Linked DNA regions of Homo sapiens. The protein of the gene in region 1 purifies or fractionates together with the protein of each later gene. This does not show direct contact. Each region holds a gene or a part of one and is shown in the gene's direction. Other genes may lie near its edges.

Region 1 (4,001 bases):
AACAGCTTCTCAACAGACCAGATCACAGCATCAGATCTAAAGGTGGCCTTCAGAATTCTTTTTCAGGTTGAATTAGGATCAAATCTAAGAATTCTAAATTCAAAATGCAGCAGAAAAACAAAACACACACACACACGGAGCCTAAGTTCTGGAGTGACATGTGCTTGGGTTCAAATCCTGGCTCTGTTGCTTCCTACTGTTTGTTGATGGGTGAGTTTCTTCATTTGCCTGAGCCTCAGTTTCCTTGTCTGTAAAATGGGGCAATAATCCCAGCTGCACAGGGTGATGTGAAGAGACAAATTTAAGACACTGCCCCTTAAATGCTAGCCACATACATACAGTTTTCAATGTTTAAACAACAAAATGTAAAGTCTTTTGAAACCAGGAAGGGTGATTTGGTTTCCCATGTTGCTGGATGTATCATTTTCAGAAAGACAGAGAGAAATGAACTTTGTTCACTCAGTCTCAGAGGCGGCCGCCGGCAGCATTCAAAGGCACCCCAGCCCGGAGCCACCCCAGGGAGGAGCCCCAGGCCAGCGGTCAGATTCATGGGCTTCCGTGCAGAAGGGGAGCTGCACCGGCGAGCACCCGGCCTCTGAGCTGAGCCGCATCCTCACGGACAGGACAGCGCCCCATTATGAGGCTCCTGCAGCTGTTCCTCGCTCCAGATAAAGGCCATGATTTATTCTGTGTGCCCAAATGGGGCCTCATTATACAGGGCAGGACACAAGGACCCTACAGCAAGTGTCCTCAAAGAGTCGCCTCTCACTCCGTGAGCAAGACTCCTCGGCCTCCCACCCTCCGTTCACAGGCCCCCTCCGCCGTCTGCGGGCGCAGGCCTGGGAGCGCCGCCTGTTGCCATGACAGCCGGCCCCTCCCTGCCCCCCATCAGTAGGAAATCATCCCCTTCTGAAACGTCCTGTTGTGTCCCTCAGCTCCAGCCCAAGCCCCCCACCCAGCCCCCGCCTGCTCTGAGTCTCTGAGACAGTCACACACTCAGACTATGTGGCCAAGCTGGGGGCGGGGGGCATGGGCTAGGGACACACTAGAATATTCACGCTCCGGTGGCAGCAGCAGCAGCAGCCAGAGGAGCAGCCCGACACAACAAGGGACCCCTCAGGAATGAAGCAGCCTTTCAGGGCCAGAGGGGCTGTGGTCTCCCTTCCTCTCCTTAAATAGCCAGCGTTCCACCCACAGCGGCAAGGAGCCCCCTGCCACCACCGACACCCACGGGCGGAGATCACCTGCTGCCCCGCAGACCCCTGTCCCTTCCTCCCGGACCAGCAGCTAGAGGTAAGGGGCAGGCTGGGTGGGGTGGACTGGGAGCCCAGGGCTAAGCAGAGGAAACACTCAGCGGGGAGCCCTGCCCAGGGAGACAGGCAGCAGCCTGTCTCGTCCCATCTCTTTGGTGATGGTCTGACCTGTGCATCGAAGGCTGACCACAGTCTGAATTCACAGCAGCCCACAAAGCGGTGTTTCGTCCCTCTGATGGGGGCTTGCAGAGGGGAAGTGGCTTGCCGGCAGTCCAGGCTGCAATGACAGCACCGCTGCCCCTAACCATTAGGCAGCCTTGACCCATAGAGGAGCCAGATGCCTGGGAGAGGGCTCGGGCCAGGGATGGAGTGGCGCTAATGCAAAGGAAACTGCCACCACCTGGCCATGGCGCTGCCACCACAGGCCCTCCCCGAGGCCACACATGCCCACCTGCCACCTCCACAGAGGCCTATGACCTGTCCTAGATGCTCGACTCACCCACAGCCACGGGACCCAACACTGCCCAGGCCCCGGCCCATGCCACGCCCTTTCCTCTTACGGACACCGGCTCGGTGGCCGTCTGACCAGTGAGTCGTGAGGAACCAGCGAGTCTAGACTGAAGTTTGTGTTTCTAAAGGGCAACAGAGAGTGAAGCGGGGCCCATCTCAGACCAAACTGCAACAATCAGTATCAGAACTCCTCAAACGGGGGACAGAAAGGGAGAAGAAACCTCAGCAAACCTGAAACCAACCAGAAAGCTGTTTAAAATGGAGTCTCAGTCCCAGAGAGAGCGAGGGGCACGCCCTTCGGCCCGGGCAGGAAGTGGAGGGCAGTGCCCAGGCTGAGGCCCCCGGGCTGGAGGCAGGAGGCACCACAGGCCCACCTGGTGCCATGAGATATGCCACCCCTGCCGTCACTCAGGGCCCTGAGCCCAGTAACACTCTGCCGTCACTGTCCTGAAACTCTTCCTTTTTGAGCAAGGGGCTGCACATTCTCATTTCATACATGGGCCCCTAAAATGAGGGAGTGGCCCCAGGGCCAGGAGGGGGTGCTGAGCCTGGGAGACAACTCCATGGCAAACTCTGAGACTGAGTCACACTCCCCACCCTGGCGGTCTTCCAGGGAGTGAGACCGTTTCCCCGGTCTCACTTCCAGCTCCAGGGCCAATGTCCCCTGGTCAAGTGACCTAAGACAAGTTAGCAGACACTCAGCCTTGACTCCCTAACCTGCAACATGGGGCTAAAACTGGTTTGAGCCAGCACAGGCAGGCCCCCACCATGCCAGGCAGAGTGGTCAGTCGTACCTATGAGCTGCTCTCTCGTGGGGCCAGGTGATGCCTGCACTGTGGGGCACAGCACAGGCCTGAGGGACAGCCTGGGGTGGAGGGCACCCACCTTGGCCCCTTCCCACCCCCAGGTTCTAACAAGGGCCCCTCACTCACTGGGCCCCCTCTCCTCTTCCAGTCTCCAGGGCCTCCCCGCACACACCTTCCTCCTCTCCTGCCAACCTGAAAACAGCACACCTGTGTGCCCCTCCCATCTACCATGGGCTGTCCTCTCTGCTTGCCCATGCGTCTGCCCTGGAGCCCTGTTCCTCCAGTCTCCGGGTCCTCACCCCCAGCACATGCAACACGACACCCTCAAAGTCATGGGCCCCCCTCCCCTGCCACCGTCCCACCGGTACCTGCTCCCTGTTCTCCCCTGCCTCACAGGCCCTGTCAAGGGCTGTGTTCCTCCCTCCTTTTACCTCTCCTCCACAGCCCCCTTCACAGCCCTCAGCCCTTCCCCAGGGCTTCAGCCAAGCCTGTCTCCCTCTCCCAAGCATCACTCACCCCGCCTTCTTCGGCCCTCAGCTCTCCGCCCTCACCGTGGTTTTAGCAGTCCTAGGGAAAGTGCCAGCCGAGACCAGCCAGACCAAGTCAGAGTACTGTGGAACCTGGATTCCTGGGGAATGGGGTCCCCATGAGGAACTCCACATTGGACTAAGAACAGACCCTGTTCCTGGAAGCAGCAGGAAACCATCTCTGGTGTTAGAACTTCAGGCATCTTGAAACACTCTGAAGCCGGGGGCAATCTTTTCAGGTAGGGGAACCTGCCTAGAGAAATAGCTAAAAGGTAATATTATTAGGTAGTTGCCCTCCCCTTTGCTTGAGGACATTGATGGCCAGGTGCTCGGGCCAGCCCTCACCCTCCATGTGAGGGCCACAGCAGCTGGCCACTCGCTCTCCTGAAGGAAGGGTGCGGCCCACCCTTCCCTAGGGCTAGGGCCACCACCATGCCTGCTTCTCCTCCATATGAGGATGGCTCCAGCCTCCTCCTCGAGGGGCTGCTGTGTCCATGAACAGTCACCATGCCCTCTCTGCCCCGTGCCACCAGCATCCTGAGACAGCCCTGTGGAATCAGTAAGAGGAGAGGGGCTGGGCGCAGTGACTCATGCCTGTAATCCCAGCACTTTGGGAGGCCAAGGAGCACTTTGGGAGGCCAAGGAGAGAGGATCACTTGAGCCCAGGAGTTTGAGACCAGCCTGGGCAACATGGCAAAACCGTCTCTACCAAAAAATACAAAAATTAGCCGGGTGTGGTGGTGTGCGCCTGTAGTCCCAGCTATTCAGGAGGTTGAGGTGGGAGGATCACTTGAGCCCTGGAGGTTGAGGCTGCAGTGAGCTGATTGCACCACTGCACTCCAGCCTGGGTGACAGAGGGAGACCTTGAAAAAGAGAAAGAAAAAAAGAAAAAAGAGAGGGAGGGG
Region 2 (3,500 bases), on another chromosome or scaffold:
ATTAAAAAAAAAAAAAAAATAGCTGGGTGTTTTGCGAAGGCCTGTAACCCTAGCTACTCAGGAGGCTGAGGCAGGAGGATTGCTTCAGCCCGGGAGATTGTGGCTTCAGTGAGCTATGATCCAATCATTGCACCCCAGCCTGGTCAACAGAGTGCAACCCTGTCTTAAAATTATATATATGTATTTTTTATATGGAGTCTCCCTCTGACACTAGACTGGAGTGCAGTGGCAGGACCTCAGCTCACTGCGATTTCCACTTCTCTAGTTCAAGCCATTCTCCTGCCTCAGCCTCCTGAGTAGTGGGATTACAGGCATGTGCCACCACACCCAGCTAATTTTTGTATTTTTAGTACAGACAAGGTTTCACTGTGTTGGCCAGGATGGTCTCGATCTCCTGATCTTGTGATCCGCCCACCTCGGCCTCCCAAAGTGTTGGGATTACAGGCGTAAGCCACTGCGCCCAGCCAAAATAAATTAATTAATTAAAAATAAAATTAAAATAAAGAAGTCAAGGCTGGTGCAGTGGCTCACGCCTGTAATCCCAGCACTTTGGGAGGCTGAGGTGGACAGATCACCTGAGATCAGGAGTTTGAGACCAACCTGGCCAACATGGCAAAACCCCTTCTCTATTAAAAATACAAAAATTAGGTGGAAGTGGTGGCATTCACTTGTAATCCCAGCTACTCAGGAGGCTGGGTGGGGAGAATCGCTTGAACCCAGGAAGCAGAGGTTGCAGTGAACCGAGATCGCACCATTGCATTCCAGTCTAGGCGGCAGAGCAAGGCTCCATCTCAAAAAAAAAAAAAGAATAAGTCAGTGTAAATTAAAATCCAGTGGCATAATTTTGATCCATTAGGGAACAGTTGTGGCTAAGGGAGTATAAATATAATAACTCTTGAACTCATAACATTATTCTCTGGAATGATGTTTTACCAATCACTCTTACATTAAGAGAAAGTTCCAATTTAGCTAATTAGCAATTTAGTTTCCATGGCCTCTTAAACCTTGATTTCACTGAGGCTTTCTCATCTTAAGTAACATCATCTCCTTAATCCTCTGTGGTGATATAAACAGCAGTCTCAGGACAAAATGAAAAGCAGACACATAAAAAGCAACAAACTGGCTGGGCGCGTTGGCTCACGCCTGTAATCCCAACACTTTGGGAGGCCAAGGCAGGAGGATCACAAGGTCAGGAGATCAAGACCATCCTGGCCAACATGGTGAAACCTTGTCTCTTCTAAAAATACAAAAATTAGCCCGGTGTGATGGCATGCACCTGTAGTCTCAGCTACTCAGGAGGCTGAGGCAGGGGAATCGCTTCAACCTGGGAGGCGGAGGTTGCAGTGAGCTGAGATCGCGCCACTGCACTCCAGCCTGGGCGACAGAGAAAGACTCCATCTCAAAAAAGAAAAAAGCAACAAACTGATAACAGACAGTATGCATTCACAGAGTATTTCTAGGCAGTGAATTGTTATTATTATTATTATTATTATTATTATTATTATTATTATTATTATTCTGAGATGGAGTCTCGCTCTGTCGCCCAGGGTAGAGTGCAGTGGTATGATCTCAGCTCACTGCAACTTCCCCCTCCAGGGCTCAAGCTATTCTGCTGCCTCAGCCTCCCTAGTAGCTGGGATTATAAGCGTGTGCCACCATGCCTGGCTAATTTTTGTATTTTTGGTAGAGATGGGGTTTCGCCATGTTGGCCAGGCTGGTCTTGAACTCCTGACCTCAAGTGATCTGCTCACCTCGGCTTCCCAAAGTGCTGGGATTACAAGTGTGAGCCACTGTGCCTGGCTGTCACTTGTTATTTTGAATTGCCCCTTTTTTTTTTTTTCCTGTGGAATTTGAACTTTGTTCTGCAGTAGATTCTATAACTAGCTTACTTTTTAATTCAACTGTTTATATCTGTAGTGGACTGCTGTTTCTGGTTCAAACATTTTAGTTGAAAGTTAGAATTCCTATAGTTTCATTCTCCTTTTTATGACTGAACATACCACATTTATAACATTGTTCTTTCTGGAACTTATTAATAGGATAAGAAAAACCAGTGGTTTTGAAAAAGTTATATAGCACAGGAAGAATTATATGATGGAAATATAATTGCTTAGGTGATTAAAGAGGAGCTAAACACTGAGGCAATGTTTAGAAAATCTGAGTATTAAAAGGAAGCGTAATTGTTTTCTTTTTTTAATTCTAAAATATGTTCTGGCCAGGTGCAGCGGCTCACACCTGTAATCCTAGCACTTTGGGAGGCTGAGGTGGGCAGATTGCTTGAGCTCAGAAGTTCAAGACCACTCTGGGCAACATGGTGAAACCCCAGCTCTACTAAAAATACAAAAAATTAGCCGGGTGTGGTGGCGCATACCTGTGATCCCAGCTACTCAGGGAGGCTAAGGCACTAGAATCACTTGAACTGGGGAGGTGGAGGCTGCAGTAAGCCGAGATCACACCACTGCACTCCAGCCTGGGTGACAGAGCAAGACTGCATCTCCAAAAATATAAATAAATAAAAAATAAATGAAATACTATCTGTAATTAACAGTTTTGATTGTTACAGATAAATGGAGATGGAATATATTGGGTAGATAGATAATGTAAATGAGTCATCTGAGTTGGAGGGGACAGAGATAATTTGAGAAATCCATGCCCCTCTAAAGGTGAGGAGCGTCAACTCTAGTAAGTTGTAGTTTTGTGACAATAGGATCCCAAGATTGCTAGATCTTCTTTTTTTGTTGTTGTTGAGACAGAGTCTCACTTTGTTGCCCAGGCTGGAATGCAGTGGTGCGATCTCTGCTCACTGCAAGCTCCACCTCCAGGGTTCACACCATTCTCCTGCCTCAGCCTCCCGAGTAGCTGGGACTACAGGCGCCCACCACCATGCCCTGCTAATTTTTTGTATTTTTAGTAGAGACAGGGTTGCACCATGTTAGCCAGGATGGTCTCAATCCCCTGACCTTGTGATCTGCCTGCCTCGGCCTCCCAAAGTGCTTGGATTACAGGTGGGAGCCACCATGCCCGGCAAGATTGCTAGATCTTAGGCATATTCAAGAGAAACTAGAAATTCCTTTTTTATTTCCTAATTTTACAAACACTTCTTAGGCTCATATAAAAACATGTCTTTAGCTGAGCACAGTGGCACGCATCTGTAGTTCCTGCCACTTGACAGGCTGAGATGGGAAGATCATTTGAGGCCAGGAGTTCGAGGCTGCAATGCGTTATAATAGTGTCTGTGAATAACCACTGCACTGCAGCCTGGGCAACATAGCAAGACCCATCTTTAAAAAAATCTGTCTCATCTATCATCTCTCTATCTGTCATCTATCTAATCTATGTCTTCAGGCCAGATCTAGCCTGTAAACTGGTAATTGAGGCCCTCTCCTCTAGCAGCAGTAGTAACAATTAGAAGTGATTGGAATAGGGAGCAGTGTATTTGGGTTTAGGAGCAGGGAGCAAGACGGTTTAATGACAGAGAAGGAAGCTAAAGATATTAGAGT
Region 3 (3,500 bases), on another chromosome or scaffold:
ATATAGGCTATTCTTTATATTATATGAAAATAAAATATCTGACTTCCAGGATGTTTTAGACTGAAGCTATAGGATATAAAGAAAACTTACTGTTTCTAATTTAATGTTTAAATATTAAAGATTTCATTTAGTCAGGAAAAATTTCCTCAATTTTAATAATAAAGTAGTTAATATTATTAAAGATATTAAAAATATCTTTAAAACTATTTTTCCCTCCAAAGAAATGTAATAAAGTTATGCTCTCATAGCGAAGTTCTACATAAAAGGGATTCTTAAAATCAACTGAAATTATATAAAAACATAAATATGGGGAATAAGGAAAAAAAGATGGCAAGTAGTAGGTAAAGAGTTGATGGGGGATGGTAAAGTTATTGTTTAATTGATAAATTAAAAACTGCTTTAAATAAAAATCTTTTACATATATTGATATCAGTTCCATCAAGCCTTAAAACAAACAGAAACTGAGTGCCCACTTTTTAGAGTCAGTCAGTTGAATAACGTATAACAACTATAAGAAAGTATTATAATTAAAAAAATAGCTTTATTGAGTGATAAGGTTCACACTTTTAAAGGTTAACTTCAGTGGAATAATGAAGTTTTAAAGGGTGCTAAGTTAAAACTGATAGCCAGCTTTCATTATTAGTGCTTCCCAGTAACGCAAAAGGGTCACTTTACTCAAACAAAACATGTTAGTATTCAGTTCAGTGTTCTGTGTCTATATGAAAAAATCCCATTTTTTAAGTGGTCAACTTTACTGTTTTTTTCTTTTCTTTTCTTTTAATCTTGGCATTTACCAATTTGAAGAAAACTTTGAAAAATGATTTTCAGCCTTAATTTTTTTAACATATTTGATAGCCAGTGTTAATCAGGAATGGGCAGATTTCATCAATAATCCCACATACTATTTTAGCACTTATATTTTAGAATTTTAGACCTGTGTTTTCTTTCGTGTTGAAACCAAAATATAGTTGGAGTTTCATAAGTGTAGGTACTTTAGGAAATATTACTTCTCTGAGCCTGTGTTTCCTCATCTGTTTAATGAAGAGATTGAATTAAATGATCCCCAAGATCTTTTCCAATTCTGGAATTCTGTCATCTAATGAAATGTGTGTAATTAGAATACATGCCTTTTATTTTATTTGCCTGATTAAAAGTTAGGACTTAAGTAACCAGGAGAGAGAAAATAAATAATGAACTTAAATAATGTTCATTTTTGGGATGAATGAACATTGGAATGTCCTTTTTGGGAAAATTGGATATCCATAATAACTCCAATTTCTGACCTTCTGATGGACCAAAAGAAACTCGGGGCCTGGCATTCACTATGCACCTTTCCCACAAAGTCCTTGAGTTCCTCATCTGTGTGCTTCAGAGGTAAAAAACACTGAACTGGGAGTCAGTATACCTGGGTTCTAATTATAGAGCTGTCATCTACTGGTGACTTTGAAGATCTGCTCATTAGGCAGCTGGACTCTAGATTAGATGGTCTCTAAACTCCTTTCTAGCTCATACTGTTAGGCAGTTGTTACTCTTGTGAGTCCCCTCATGCTTAATTGTCAGCTACCTCTGCGACTCTATCCTTGAGCATTGTCATTGCTAGCTGTAGCCCAAATTTCATGATTGCCACCAACAATGCTGATATTCAGCTGACAGCAACAATGCAGCCTCAAGAACTGTGGTCATGCTGCAAATGTTCATTCTCCTAATTTCTTCATTCGTATGAAATATGTGCAACTAGGTCTGTTGTAAAGAAAAAAGCTTTTCTGAGTTTGCTAATATTTAGAGTCAATTTGAAGTAGACAGAGCCCCACTTTCTGTGTCCTATACAAATGCTTGTGTAGTACTGACTTGAAGAAACTATATGGGGAGAGCTGTGTTACTACCTGTATAGTTGAAATAGTATTATGCCCCTGGAAGAGAACACACGGACAGTTTCCCTCGCTCTTTCCTGGTGAATATCCAGATTCTTAGAAAGATATTTTACCTTTGCAAAAGATTTCCAAAAGCAGCTGTTATGTTCTTAGCTGCCAGAGTGACTGCTGTCTGCCTTCTAAGTGGAAAGGTGTATTTAATGTCACTATAACCTTTAAGCCCACATTCATTAGCTCAGGTAGCACTGTACTTACACTTGCAGTAGTTTACATTTGGGATGATTATACTGTAGACAAGTAGCAAGCAGTTCCTTGAACATACTAGGTACCCAATAAATATTTATTGAGTCAATGAGTTTTCATCTATTTAAACCTGTGGCCATTTTAAAGGGATTAAAATAGTACCTTGTAATTTTAGCGTAAAGTCTAATCATAAATAATTGGACCATGTGGTGTTTGGAATTCTTTTTTATCTTTTCAACCATTAGTCCATTTCTACAACTAAGCAAAGATCAATTTTAAGAAAAATCGTAAAATCATAATTTGCCCTTTACTAAAACCATACATATATTCATTTCATACCATAACTATATGTAACAGTTCATCAATATGACCAATTTTGGAAATTAAAATGAGCCACTCTTGATGTGTGGAGAAATAAATAACTTTTGTTACACTGAACGGAAAATAAATATGACCTATTCATTCAACATCAGTTCATTAAAATATTAGTGATATGCCCCAAGCTTAGTCAGCAGTAAGCTAGGTTGAAATATTATAGTGTAATAAATTATTTAATAAATTTATTTCTTAAGATTGAAATCTTAAAATACCTCAGCAATTATTCTTCCAAAAGATGAAGTAGAGAAACACATGAAATAAACTGATGATACAGACTTTATTGTAATGTTAAAACTAACAGTAATAGCTAAGAAACTTAAGTTTAAAAAATGGATTAGTTGACATTGTCTTATTCTAAGATCAAATCCTTTGGAATGATGGAACATTTCATATCACTCCAACTTTTTTGGTTTTTGTTTTTAACGCCTGAACTTTGTAGATATGGCATTCGCCCTGAAAATGTGATTATATATGGCCAAAGTATAGGGACAGTACCGTCTGTGGATCTTGCTGCTCGATATGAGAGTGCTGCTGTTATTCTTCATTCTCCTCTGACTTCGGGAATGCGAGTTGCCTTTCCTGATACCAAGAAGACCTACTGTTTTGATGCATTCCCAAAGTAAGTAGCAATATTCAAAATAGTTAAATTCCAAGAAACTTGGGAATTTTTTCATCATTTAAAGTATTCATGACACAGTTCACTCAACCATAAACTTCATTTTATATATATTAGCACATAGAAATTATGAAAAATTAATTTGTAAAGAGGGTATTAGCAGGTGACCAGTCAGAAGGCTGAAATGTTTGAGGAGTAGTAATCCAGATGAAAATTGCTGAGGGCCTTACACCTCAGGTGGTGGCACTAGTATTGGAGACAAGGGAATTAATTTGAAACATAAATTTGACAGAACTGAGTATCAGACTGGGTGTAGGATGCTAAAGAGAAAAACTTGAACATGACTACCATGTTTCTGCCCTGAGGTGCTAATGGATAGGGCCATCCAGTGA
Region 4 (2,244 bases), on another chromosome or scaffold:
AAAGTGTAGTAAAAAACACATAACAAATCAACCCTCCTAACCATTCTAAAGTGCAAAGTGCTAACTAGGTGCACGTCTTTGCCCTCATCCTTCACTGGGTCTTCAAGTGAAATTCCTGAATTAGAGGAGTTACACATTTTTATTAAAGCCTAATCTTATGTAAATATTTGTTTACATAAGATCTTAGCTGACTCTATACATTTCCTTCTGAGTGCTGATTTTCTGTCCAGAAGCCTAGAGCTTTTGATTTAGTTGTTCTTGGGTGAGGTCTGGACATCTGTATGTTCAAAATCTTCACAAATGTTTAGGAACCATTTCTCTAAACATTTAATTAACATAAAGTACTCGTGGAAGATGTTTGCTTGGATAGTCTGTATAGAAGATATTTGGAATATAGATCATTTTAACCTAATATACTTCAACCTTTTTTTTTTTCCCTAGGAACGAATGATCACACACTTTGAAAGGTCCAAAATGGAGTAAGGAATGGGAAGATTTGCAGTTAAAGATGGCTACCATCAGGGAAGAGATCAGCATCTGTGTCAGTCTTCTGTACGGCTCCATGGGATTAAAGGAAGCAATGACATCCTGATCTGTTCCTTGATCTTTGGGCATTGGAGTTGGCGAGAGGTGTCAGAACAAAGAGAACATCTTACTGAAAACAAGTTCATAAGATGAGAAAAATCTACGAGCTTCTTATTTACAACACTGCTGCCCCCTTTCCTCCCAGACTCTGACATGGATGTTCATGCAACTTAAGTGTGTTGTTCCTGAACTTTCTGTAATGTTTCATTTTTTAAATCTGACAAACTAAAAAGTTTAACGTCTTCTAAAAGATTGTCATCAACACCATAATATGTAATCTCCAGGAGCAACTGCCTGTAATTTTTATTTATTTAGGGAGTTACATAGGTGATGGGGGAAATTGTTAACTACCTTTCATTTTCCTGGGAAGTCAAGGTTACATCTTGCAGAGGTTGTTTTGAGAAAAAAGGGCCCTTCTGAGTTAAGGAGCCATAGTTCTATCAATGATCAAAAGAAAAAAAAAAAAAGAGAAACTGTTACAGTATGATTCAGATCATTTAAAAAAGCAAAATCAAGTGCAATTTTGTTTACAAATGGTGTATATTAAAGATTTTTCTATTTCAGATGTACTTTAAAGAGAAATATTAGCTTAACTCTTTTGACATCTGCTATTGTGACACATCCCATTGCTGGCAATGTGGTGCACACTCCGAAACTTTTAACTACTGTTTTGTAAGCCTCCAAGGGTGGCATTGCAGGGTCCTTAGGCAATGTTTTGTTTGCCTTTATGCAGAGAGGTGCTCCAAGTGCTGTGATTGAGCACCGTGCTAGAGGAACTGTAATGCTTCAGAAGTTGTAGCTTATACAAAGGAAACAGGTCCTGCTGGCTTAATTTAAACAGTTATTGCATGAAGTAGCGTGGAGGCCCTGGACTGCTGCTCGTTCTTTAGGATGGACTGTTCTGGTATCTGGTATTGGTTTAGAGACTGTTAATAAGGGACATCACAAGGTGATGGGATTCATTTGAAGCACTCTATTTCTGTTTTAATGGTTTTATCCAATTTTGCCTTCCCAAGATTTTTGTTCTACATAAAAAGTTCATGCCACTTTTTAATATAAAAAAATTTAACAAAATTAATGTATTTTTCTCATTTTTTTCAAACTTTTTCTAAAGACTCTTTCTGTCAAACTCATGAAAAATTTCTTTCTATGGCTTTTATTCTAGATTGTCTTATTTTCTGTTAAAACCAATGACCACATGACCACAATCTTCACTAACTCATACTGCAGTGAAAGTGTTAACCCTTAGGTAGTTTCTCTACAACTCTTTGCTATGGTGATTTTTAAAAAAGTTTCCTAGGAAGTATCTCTGAGGAACAGCAATCTGAAGAACTGACTATATTCTCATGCTAAGTCATTAGCCAAAAGCTGGTGGTATTGTTGCATGCTGCTATTGCATATTAAAACGTAGCAGATGAATAATAGTTGTAATGCAGCAGGATAGTTGGTCAAATTATTTTTTTAGGCTGCTTTGATGTTGACTTGAGACTAGGAAAAAAAAAAGCCCATTGTGTTAAGCGGGAGTGTATAGTTCAAGTTCTATAGCCTGGGCCCTGATAATTCTACTTACAGCTTTCTGTATTACTGGGAATAGATATAGTGTGTCATTTCTTAGGTTCAGAAGAAATTGATAGCTTTGCAGTAATCTGTAAAACAATA
Region 5 (3,500 bases), on another chromosome or scaffold:
ACTTGGAGGCTGCAGTGAGCTATGATGGTGCTACTGCACTCCAGCTTGGGTGACAGACCAAGACCCTGTCTCAAAAAAAAAAAAAAAAAAAGAAAAGAAAAAGAAAATGAGGAGGGATTAGAGTGGGAGAAATGGGTCCATTAATAGCTCTTTTGTTTCAGAGTTGTAAAATCCTATTGTAGTACACTTCATTCACTCTAGGTTTTCCTGTTAGTGTATTAGAATTTCTTTCTATTGAAAATTACTGGCCGGGCACGGTGGCTCATGCTTGTAATCATCACTTTGGGAGGCTGAGGTGGGTGGATTACTTGAGGTCGGGAGTTTGAGACCAGCCTGGCCAGCATGGTGAAACTCTGTCTTTACTAAAAATACAAAAGCCGGGCATGGTGGTACACGCCTGTAGTCCCAGGTACTCAGGAGGCTAAGGCAGGAGAATCGCTTGAAACCAGTGCAGTGAGCTGAGATTGTGCCACTTGTTCAGACTGGGCGAAGGGCATACTGTGTTTCAAAAAATGAAAAAGAAAATTACTTGAAACAATAGGGAAATCAGCTGTTTTTTTTTCTTAATTAGAATTTGTGATGTCATTTTTAGTAACAATTTATTTTGTAGCTTAAAATTGGCCCTAACCAATTCTTTTTAAATATGCTCATAGTCCTATAAAATTTTTGTGCTTTAGAAAGATGAATATTCTTAGTATCTAGATTTTCCTGGAGACTTGTTTTCCTAGACTGGATCTTTTAACATGGTAGTTAACTAGGGTATAATAGGAGTATGTCTTATTTTTAAATTTTTCTGGCATTCTTTAGTTCAACAAACGTTTTAGTACCTCCTATGTGCTGAGTTCTTTGGATACAAGGGTGGTTAAACACAGACTTGTATTATTATTATTATTATTGTTAATTTATTTTTGGGACAGTCTTGCTCTGTCACCCAGGCTGGAGTGCAGTGGTGTGATCATGGTTCATTGCAGCGCTGACTGTGTATCTCCTCCAACTCTTAAATTATTCACGTCTCCTATCTGACTTCGCTTGGCACACCAATATCCTTGAGAAGCAATAATAGTTCTGCCAGTTGCTCTTCCTTGAGAGTTGTACCATTCTCTATATCTCAAAACATTCTTCACTTCAGACTATCTGTGATGTATTGCCCTTACAACCACCTGTATTGTGCATTTTTTTTAGTTCCATAGTCATTACTCATTAACACATCCCAAATAAAACTCAGCTTTCTTCTTTCTGTTCTCCCTCTCAGTAAATAACCTCATCTACACAGTTTTGTCCTTGACTGTTCTCCCCTTCACCTCTCACATCTAATCAGTCATGAAGTCTTGTCATTTTGATCTTCTAAATATCTTTCTAAGCCATCTGCCTTTCCTCATCCCCACTACCATTGCCTTAGTTCAAGCAACCATGAGTCTCTCCCTCTCTGGATTACTGCAGCTGTTCGTTCTTGGCCCTGCAGCCACTTTATTGGCTTAGAAAAGGCAAATTTCTAGTTGCGTTTGTCTGTCTTCAGGATAAATTTCAAACTCCTAAATTCTTTAGCATGGCTTATGCAGCCCTTTATGATCTGATCTGGTCTCTGTTTTTGTTTCTAAACTATTTAGACTCTACTCTCTGGTATTTGGGTTTCAATCATGCAGTGAACTACTGCTCTGTATAAAATATATCCTCTGCTAAGAACATATATCCTCTGCTTCCCTATACCCTCTACTAATTAAAATTGCCATTATTTAGATCTCAGTTTATATGTCGCTCTAAGTAAGTTTTCCTGATTCTCACTCTGCCTGAGCCTCCTAAATCTAGGTAAGATAGCATTTATTAGGGCTTGCTGTGGCAGCCTGTTGGTACAATTACATGTTGTAATTGTCTGTTTTCTTGTCATCCCATTAGATTGTAACTGCTGTGGAGGCAGTGACTGAATCTTACTTATTTACACCTAGTAGCTTGCTCTGTACCTGGCACATGGTAGGCGTTTACTGTATATTTATTGAAGAAGTAACTGAAAATGGTACCTCATTCAGGATTCTCTGCATTCCTCTATTACACTCTACTATATACATTGATTTACTGGCTTACATAATACTGCTAGTTTAGTCAGACACTTTTCCTTGTGTGTGTTTTTGCCACTGACACCTTTTATTTCCAGCATGTGGTTGGTGCTCATAAATGTGCTGAATGCATGAGTAAAGAAACTTCTAAATCAGATTAAGTGGAATGGAGAGTAGTTCAAAGAATTTGGGCAGGCTATTGCTTATGTTCTTTTCTGAAGGATTTAGTAGAAGTTATTTGCAGAGAGAAAGGATAAAAGGGTGTTCCAGGTAGATGGAACAGAATACACCTGAAAAAAGGTACAAAGCTTTTGGGTAACAGAGTTCACAATGGCCCAAGGCAGAAATGTTTTATGTGTTGGGGAGTATCAGGAAGTATAGCCTCACTGTAGAGGTAAAGGGTGAAGTCAGAAGATTTTTAAGCCCCTGTGTGGTATAACCAGATGGACATTTTGTAAAGGTTAGTTTGGGCAGTGGTTATACATTATGCACCTTAGGCAGATTATTGGAAGGTGACTAGATCAGAAGAAGAGAGATCAGAATGTTATTTTAGTGACTTAGGCTAGAAATGATAAGGGGCCAGTGTCAGAGGAGAAGGTTCGAGGGACTTAGGTTATAGGGTCTGGATGGTGAAAGAAGCATTTAGAATAAGTGGGTGGATGAGATATCTTTGACAGAATTGGGAATATAGAAGAAGAGCAGGTTTAGATAGAACACATGAGATTAAGATGCCTTATTGAAATGGAGATACCAAGTAGGTGCTTAGATATTTGGGTGTGGAGCCCATTAGGATGCTCAGTCTCGCATTTCCTGGGGATGCTTTCTGGAACCATATGCTCAAATTATCATCTGTATGCCAAATAGTTTTGAAAGAAACTGAACTTTTGTACCTTTTTTGGTTGTTATATTAGCCTGTAAGTTCACATAATTGCTAAAGTTAAGAATGCATGTTGTGTATGATAGGTGATGGGTTTCCAAGTTTGGAGAATGATTTAGGGCAATAATTTTACCCTGAACTTACTGCTACATTTAAAATATTTGGGTTGAATTTTTCCTTTATCTTCCATTTTTGGAAATAAATAAAAATTATAATAATCATAATATAAGTAAAAATTCAGTATTAAGTGTAGGGACAGTATAAAAAATTACTACTGTATTGTGAAACTTCCTTATTTTTTCCAGCTCTTTGTGTCAGGAAGGATGTTCTTGAGTTGGATTGTGCAAAAGTTCATTCTGTCTAAAAGTTGAATTTATCTGTTTTTCTGCCTCATTTTTGCTTTTTAATTAAAACTTTTGCTAAATTAGAGGTGAGAAAATTTATTCTAAAATGTTTGCTGTGGTCACCAGAACTCTTTTAATAAGGTATATCTGACATAGCTCCTTTGCTAGAGGAGAAAAACAAAATACAGTTTCTGTTGCTTTCAGCAGGCCATCATTGGAAGTTTTATA
Region 6 (3,500 bases), on another chromosome or scaffold:
ATGTGACTATCCAGGGAAGGGCTAGGCACCACAGTACTTTATTTACTTGAGATGTATGAGGCATTTTTTCCCACATTTCGTAAAGTTACATTTAGCCTCCAACAAAGCAAAATCTCAGTAATCTCATGGTAGCTAATCCCTGGTGAACTTTGTTTCTTCCCTTGCAGTCTATCTACATCACCACCCAAACATAAATTGATAAGCATAACTCATTTTGTCTTTGCAGAAAGTATATTTTGCAGGAAGATGGTATTCCCACAAATGTATTGTCCTTGAAGACCGTTAGAGACTTATCTTCTCCACTTCACTATTGAGACCTGGGCCAGGCCCGCTCTGGTCTGTTGGTAATCTATGTGGCCATTAAGCAGGATGGGAAAGCAAACTGAAAAGGCCTGATTTAGTCCTCTCGGTTCTATAGATTGTGAGTGGGTAGGTGTTGGATGGTGAAGATACAGAGATCATTTTGTGGGTGGTGTTATAACCCTTCTAAATACCCACCTGTCTGTCTTCATTCTTTCCCCAAATATTTATTGAGCATACAGCTGAAGGGAGATGGACAGTTAACAGGAAAATACATAGTATGTCAGACATTTAATCCTTTTTTGTTTGAAAATCATTGTATTGGCATGTGAGTAGATTTCTGAGTATTGCCATTCAAAATTAATTCAGCTACCTTTTAACATATGGCCAATTATAGATGGATTTTCTGTAAACTATACTCATGAAATTACAGCTTATTGTGTATTCTTAAAACTTTTTTTTTTGTCAAAAAGTATAACTTATGAAACAGCATGTAGATTAGGGGAAATTTTACTTCATTAAAACAATCCATTCTCAAAGACTTCTCAAGGAACTTTTATTTTCACAGAAAGAAAAATAAACCTTTAAAGGGATGCAGAGTTAATGTAAAACGTTTTTCAAATTTTCTTATGTCAGACTTCATTTTGAAGTAAAGAATGGTTAAAAAAGAAAGAATCCCCCCCCCCGCCCCACACTGTTACACTGTTACAACTGATAAGAAGCCCACAGGCCCAGGAACAGCTCCAGGTTGCCCTCTTTTGGTACCTGCCCTACTACAGCTCTCTGCAGAGAGAGGGAGTCTAGGCTGCCCTAGCTTAGCCTGATCCATTCCTGCTCTCGAGAATCCTGACTTAAAAATAGTCTGGCCATCTGCTGGCAGATGAGACAACAGCTGAGCTATTTTTAGTTTCAAAGAATTTAGGATTGTTGTGGGATTGGGCTTGAAGGTAGCATTGTTTATCTGCTAGGGAGGGTGCAGTTGGGACTTATTCCAGTAAGGCCTCTAAGTTTCAGGAGTTTCTTTTATGTTAGGGTTGTGACTAGTTCAGCTTATGCTTTCTGACATCGAATGAAGAGTATCTATGAAGATACTCTGCAAATGTTAGGATGAAAGAGTTCAAGGTTGGAAACTGTCACTGATACACAATAAGAGTGAAAAAGTTGAAGAGCTGACCAGAAGAAGGTTTTAAAGGGAAGGGAGGCATATACTGGCAGTGATAAGGGTGGGTTCCCAGGAGGTATATGGGAAAATAATGGAGACAAAATTGTTAGGGAAGTAATTTTTGCATCAGACAGGGTATGAATTTATATTGTTCATCATATTATAAAGTGATCCTGCTGACTTAGTTTTCTTATATAAGAGTCTATTACCTGTAATTATAGTTTCATCCAGAGATACAATATTGAGACTCAAACTTTTCAGAACTTGCTTCCTTCTGCCCCTTTAATCCCACCCTTATTTTTGTTGGTGGAGTTATAAAAAAGATACGTCAGTGGAGGGGAAATTACTTGAATGCTTTGGGCCCTGGTTTTATGCTACTTTTGGTAACTATTAATTTTCATCACTCTTCACCATTTATGAAAAAATGATTTATCCCCAAACAATATCCTGCCATCAGTGAACACCTTAATTATAATTTAAATCCATTAACAAATCTCCGTTTAAGCCTTCTTTGATATCTAAAGTAAAAGGTGTTTTCAGTAAGCCAGGCTACCTGAATTTTTGAGATGGGTAGAAGAAAAGAGTATAATTAATGACATAACCGAAAGATTGATCCTATTTGTATTTGTTCTTTTCTTTCACATTTCAGATTTGTTTTTAGGACACTTGCTCTAGAATAGTGTTGACTGAAATAAATGTTGCAGAGTACAAGTTCTTAGAGAAGCTCTTTGAAGAAAATAAGTTTGGGTTGAAAAAATAAGTTTGGATTATAGTGTGTAATCTGTTTCCATTTGGGAAATTTATAATGCACATGAACATAGTTAAGATTCTGAAAAGTCCTCCAAGAAAGACACCTGCTCAATTTTGTTTAATGAAGTTCTTCCTGAATTTATGTGATCCTTTTTCATTGTTTGCTAACTCAGTTAACTCCCCTAGGATATGTTGTTCCTTGGAACTTACTTTGGGACACTGGGGAAAGAAAGACAAGTACAATAACCCTAACTACTGGTGAGACCATCTTCTAGAAGAGGTTTGGGGAAATCAGTGCACAAACCTGTGTTTCTCTAAACACAGGTTTGGGGAAAGTAGTAGATGTGTTAATAGTGTGGGAAGGAGAAGAAAGTCCGAAATAAGGAGCAGTAGAAATATCGAGATCAGAGGACTGTTTGCTGACTAGCTTTCTTTCCCACCCCATCTAGGGGCAGGTAACTCATTTGTGTCTCTTGGTAAGGTTTAACTTAGAGAGAAAATTGTGAATGGGAAATAATTTGGGGAAATATTTGTCATAATATTCCTCACATAATGGAGGAAGGAAGATATTTGAAAAGGAAAAATACATGAGTAAGTTATTGTTGCCATTCCGAACTAGGTATATATTTCAATCAGATATTTGTTGAACTCCTCATATGTTCCAGATACTACTTCATTGCTGGGTATACAGCAGTGAACCAAACATGCTTTCATAGAACACACATTCTAGTGGGGTGAGGGTGATAGTAACAACCTTATATCATCAGAAGAAAGAGTTCAGAAGGTTAAAGGGAAAAGGGTGGGAGTACTGATTTAGTTAGAGTTGTCAGGAAAGTCCTATCTGTGAGATGACATTTGAGCAAAGAAGTGACATAAGTGGGGGATTTAGTCTTTCAGATACTTGGATGAAATAGAAACAGGAAATAGCAAGATGGATGTGTGCTTGGTGTGTTTCAGGATGCAAGGAGGCTTGTGTGGCTGGGAGAGAGACAGAGAGAAAGATGGGAGGGGGTGGGCAGATTTGGGATTTTAGTGACAGCATGTTTATGTTTTTAAAGGCTCACTGTGGCCAGAGACCATGGGGACTTAGGCTAAGTTGGTGGTGGTGGAAAGGGTGATAATTGTGTGCATTTGGAATATATTTTGGAATCCACAGGATTTGCTGATGGGTTGGTTAACAGAGGGGATGGCATCCAGTCTTGTAGCCAGAGCTTCAGGGTAGAGGAAGATGGCATTCACCTCAATGGGGGACACTAGGATAGAAAAAGCCTTTGGGAAATAGATTTTT
Region 7 (3,500 bases), on another chromosome or scaffold:
TTGCCCCAAAAGTAATAAAGACAAATTAAGTAAACCAATTTCCATTAGCTGTTAGGATTATTTACAACAGAAAAGTGAAAATTTTCGATGTATAAAAATCCAAGAGTTACAGAAAAGTGTCCAAATTATATTGAAGATTATTTCTCTCCCATTTACTTTTAACTCTGGACTTTTGTCTTAGAACCCCTACTCATACTTCCAACTACTAGTTATGCTCATACTTAATATTTGCTGTTGACTGTACAGTCTGTTAAGAAATATCCCTATTAAAAACCGCGTATATGTGAAAGTAGTCCAGAAACTATTGGTCATCCATTCCTCTATATGTCACTCAGGTATCACTGAAAACTACAAAGGATGAGGCTTTGAGTATTAGACATCCATCTGTGTGGGTAGTAGCAAAGGCAGAATTTTTGGTCACAGGAAGAATAACATCTCTGTATTTAAACCAAAATCTTCATGTTTCCAAATAAACCATTCCCTTCCAGCCTCTTTAACCGTTAACTTCTAGGGAGATGTATGATTTTGTATAAGACATACTTCTGTAAATCAAAGAAACTTTCTACTGGCTTTGTTTATTCCATTGACTGGAATTCTGGAAATTTAACTGTCTGCACTTGCTGTGAGAGTTACTTGTTACTGCCTGTTAGCAGTTTGTCAAAGCTGTATCTAAAAGTAATTGAGCCATGCTCCATTGCAGCTGACACCCCTGCTTGGCCTCTGGAAAGAAGCAAAGCTCATCTGTTTTTAGGCAGGAGTTGGTGTGCTGGAGAGGCAGTGATGCTATGTTTTTGTGCCTCTCAGACTTAGCAGCAAGTGTTGACAGTTAGGTTTCTGGACACTCACAGAGCTTCATGGACTTACTCTGTGAAGCCCAGGCTGATAACTGAGATGCCACAGAACCCCTCATGGCTCACCACTGAGGCCATTTCCTGTTGGTTTGGGGCAGGCAACAACCAGAGAGAGTGGGAAGGGTTAGTTAAATTTGGGGATAGATAAGTAGCTTTTAAAATTTATATCCACTTTTACAGTATGGCATGTGAAGCTTAGGGTTCAACTGTTATCTAATAATGAGTTTTTAAATAACATTTTTAATTAGTGCTTGATAGATTTCTTTTCTGATTTTTTTTTTTTTTACCATAATACACTTTAAAATCTGTGATATATATACACGTGTAAACTTTGGATAGGTAGAAAATGAAGTTGTAATAGTTCTGTGTGCATGTTCTGTAGTCATTCATGTTAAAATTTTACAATAATTTGGATGTAATACCTTTTTTTCTGTGCAATTAACTGTTGTTTGGAGAAGTAACAGAATATAGATTCAGTACAAGTAAGAATTTAGAACTTGGTAGTCTACAAATGACGATTTCTGTATCTATAAAGTTAATGTTCATACAGTTACCCTATTTGTTTTCTGTTGTATTTTAGGAGTGTAAAGCTGTTACCTTAGCTGTGCAGCCGCGTTTACTTGATATCCTTTCAGAACATTTATATTATGACGAAATTGCCGTTCCATTCACACGAATGCAGAATGAATGTAAACAACTTATATCATCATTAGCTGATGTACATATTGAAGTTGGTAATCGAGTAAACAACAATGTTTTAACAATAGATCAAGCTAGTGACTTGGTGAGTAAAGAAATAACTTTCTTAATTAGAGATAGAACATGAAATATAGGTTAGAAATTTGTCATGACATGTTTATCACAAAAACACATTAGTTTGTTGAGTCTGTATGTGGCTTGGTAGCCTGTCATCTCTACCCTTGAGAAAGGTTATTTCATTGTATAGGCTTTTCTTGAAATAAGAGAATAACAAAGAATTTTTTTTAAACCAAAATTCTGATAAATCAATGCACCTTTATTAGAAAAAGCTATTATATTTTGTCATTTCAGTTTTGCTTAACACTGCAGAGTATAGAAAAAACTGCTTCTACAAGTTCCTGAGTACTTCTTCCTGCTCTCAGCCTATAATGAAAATATTCAAACATATAGAAAAAGTGATGAAATTACATAACACTCATACTTAACAGCTAGATTTTATAGTTAACATTTTACCTAATTTACTTTATCACATACGTATTCACCTGCCTACCTCTCTATCCAACCATGAATCCATCCAGGGCAGTTTTTTTAAATGCGTTTCTAAGTAAGTTTCAGATATCAGTATACTTCAGGATTTTATATAATTAACTAAAATTCAGTATTTGTTTATTTTTTTTTGCTGTTCTGAGGAAAAATTTATGTGCTAAAGCACACAAATCTTAGGTGGACCATTTGGTGAATTTTGACAGATGCATATGCCTATGAAACCTGAACCACTGTCAAGATACAGAACATTATCATCACCACTTCCCAGTAATCTCTGCCTCTCCCTGCCACCGAGTAACCATTATTCTAATTCCCCCCCGAAGATACATTACTTTTGCCTGTTCTAGAATTTCATGTAAATGAAATCATACACTGTGCTCTTTGGTGTAAGGATTTTTCTTAGAATGGTATTTTTGAAACTAATCTGTGTTATATATATATATATCAATAACTTATTTTTTTTATTGCTTGAGTTTTATTTCATTGTATTATTATACCACAACTAGTTTAAGCCATTCTCCCGTTTATGGACACTTTGGCTGTTACCACTTTTTGTCTGTTGTGAAAAAAGTCACTATAAACGTTCTTCTGCAAGTCTTTGTGGACATCTGCTTTCATTTTTCTTGGGTAAATATGTAGGAGTGGAATTGCTAAATCATAAGATAGGTGTAGGTTTAGTTTTAGAAAAAACTACAGACTTTTCCCCAAAGAGATTGTATCATTTTACCCTCTGACCATCAGTATGTGAGAGTTCTGGTTACTCCACATCATCAATATTTGATGTGGTCAGTTCTTTTAGTGATTGTCTGATAGTGTTATTGTGGTTTTAATTTCCATTTCCTTGATGACTAATATGTTGAATACTTTCTAATTTTTTATTGATCATTTGTATATTTTCCTTTCTGAAATATCTTTTCAAAATCTTGTCTACTTTGAATTAGGTTGTTTGTTTGTTATTGAGTTGTGGGAGTTCTTTATGTATCCTGGATTCCAATCCTTTGTCAAGTAGATGCTTTCTGAATATTTTCTGGCAGTGAGTGGTTTGCCTTTTGATTCTCTTAATGCTGTCTTTGGATGAGCAGATATTTTAAATTTTGGTGAATTCTAATTTATCAGTTGTTTTCTTTCATGGCTATTATGTTGTGTGACTTCAGTAATTTTTTTTTTTTTAACTTTCCAAGTGGCAAAGGTATTCACATATGTTTTCTTTTGAAGTTTTGTCATTTAGTTTTTATGATTTATCATTCATTTGGAATTAATGTTTGTGTATAGTATGAAGTAGAGGTTGAGGTTTGTTTTTCTTACAGATATCTAATTTTTCCAGCATTATTTATTGAAAATACTTTCATTTCCCTATTGGATTGTTCTGGCACCTTTGTCAAAAACCAACTGAAGTTATATAAG

The links.
Region 2: the proteins of GPR17 (region 1) and SLC33A1 purify together in Homo sapiens (co-immunoprecipitation; 2 studies listed by BioGRID and IntAct, with this or other methods). This does not show direct contact.
Region 3: the proteins of GPR17 (region 1) and ABHD17B purify together in Homo sapiens (co-immunoprecipitation; 2 studies listed by BioGRID and IntAct, with this or other methods). This does not show direct contact.
Region 4: the proteins of GPR17 (region 1) and TMEM87A purify together in Homo sapiens (co-immunoprecipitation; 2 studies listed by BioGRID and IntAct, with this or other methods). This does not show direct contact.
Region 5: the proteins of GPR17 (region 1) and TBC1D15 purify together in Homo sapiens (co-immunoprecipitation; 2 studies listed by BioGRID and IntAct, with this or other methods). This does not show direct contact.
Region 6: the proteins of GPR17 (region 1) and ARFGEF1 purify together in Homo sapiens (co-immunoprecipitation; 2 studies listed by BioGRID and IntAct, with this or other methods). This does not show direct contact.
Region 7: the proteins of GPR17 (region 1) and BTAF1 purify together in Homo sapiens (co-immunoprecipitation; 2 studies listed by BioGRID and IntAct, with this or other methods). This does not show direct contact.

The regions. Positions count from the first base shown.
Region 1 is NC_000002.12:127,644,952-127,648,952, forward strand, and holds the start of GPR17 (uracil nucleotide/cysteinyl leukotriene receptor), read left to right. Parts: upstream 1-1,201; 5' UTR 1,202-1,293; intron 1,294-2,695; coding exon of another isoform or gene 2,696-2,793; exon of another isoform or gene 2,794-2,888; intron 2,889-3,085; exon of another isoform or gene 3,086-3,644; intron 3,645-4,001. UniProt on the Homo sapiens protein: Dual specificity receptor for uracil nucleotides and cysteinyl leukotrienes (CysLTs). Signals through G(i) and inhibition of adenylyl cyclase. May mediate brain damage by nucleotides and CysLTs following ischemia.
Region 2 is NC_000003.12:155,847,928-155,851,427, reverse strand, and holds part of SLC33A1 (acetyl-coenzyme A transporter 1), read left to right. Parts: intron 1-3,500. UniProt on the Homo sapiens protein: Acetyl-CoA transporter that mediates active acetyl-CoA import through the endoplasmic reticulum (ER) membrane into the ER lumen where specific ER-based acetyl-CoA:lysine acetyltransferases are responsible for the acetylation of ER-based protein substrates, such as BACE1.
Region 3 is NC_000009.12:71,869,694-71,873,193, reverse strand, and holds part of ABHD17B (alpha/beta hydrolase domain-containing protein 17B), read left to right. Parts: intron 1-2,931; coding exon 2,932-3,111; intron 3,112-3,500. UniProt on the Homo sapiens protein: Hydrolyzes fatty acids from S-acylated cysteine residues in proteins. Has depalmitoylating activity towards DLG4/PSD95. Has depalmitoylating activity towards GAP43. Has depalmitoylating activity towards MAP6. Has depalmitoylating activity towards NRAS.
Region 4 is NC_000015.10:42,209,947-42,212,190, reverse strand, and holds the end of TMEM87A (transmembrane protein 87A isoform 1 precursor), read left to right. Parts: intron 1-441; coding exon 442-483; 3' UTR 484-1,744; downstream 1,745-2,244. UniProt on the Homo sapiens protein: Potential monoatomic ion channel gated by mechanical force, implicated in normal touch sensitivity through the generation of mechanically activated currents.
Region 5 is NC_000012.12:71,842,759-71,846,258, forward strand, and holds part of TBC1D15 (TBC1 domain family member 15), read left to right. Parts: intron 1-3,500. UniProt on the Homo sapiens protein: Acts as a GTPase activating protein for RAB7A. Does not act on RAB4, RAB5 or RAB6.
Region 6 is NC_000008.11:67,337,282-67,340,781, reverse strand, and holds part of ARFGEF1 (brefeldin A-inhibited guanine nucleotide-exchange protein 1), read left to right. Parts: intron 1-3,500. UniProt on the Homo sapiens protein: Promotes guanine-nucleotide exchange on ARF1 and ARF3. Promotes the activation of ARF1/ARF3 through replacement of GDP with GTP. Involved in vesicular trafficking.
Region 7 is NC_000010.11:91,982,770-91,986,269, forward strand, and holds part of BTAF1 (TATA-binding protein-associated factor 172), read left to right. Parts: intron 1-1,431; coding exon 1,432-1,635; intron 1,636-3,500. UniProt on the Homo sapiens protein: Regulates transcription in association with TATA binding protein (TBP). Removes TBP from the TATA box in an ATP-dependent manner.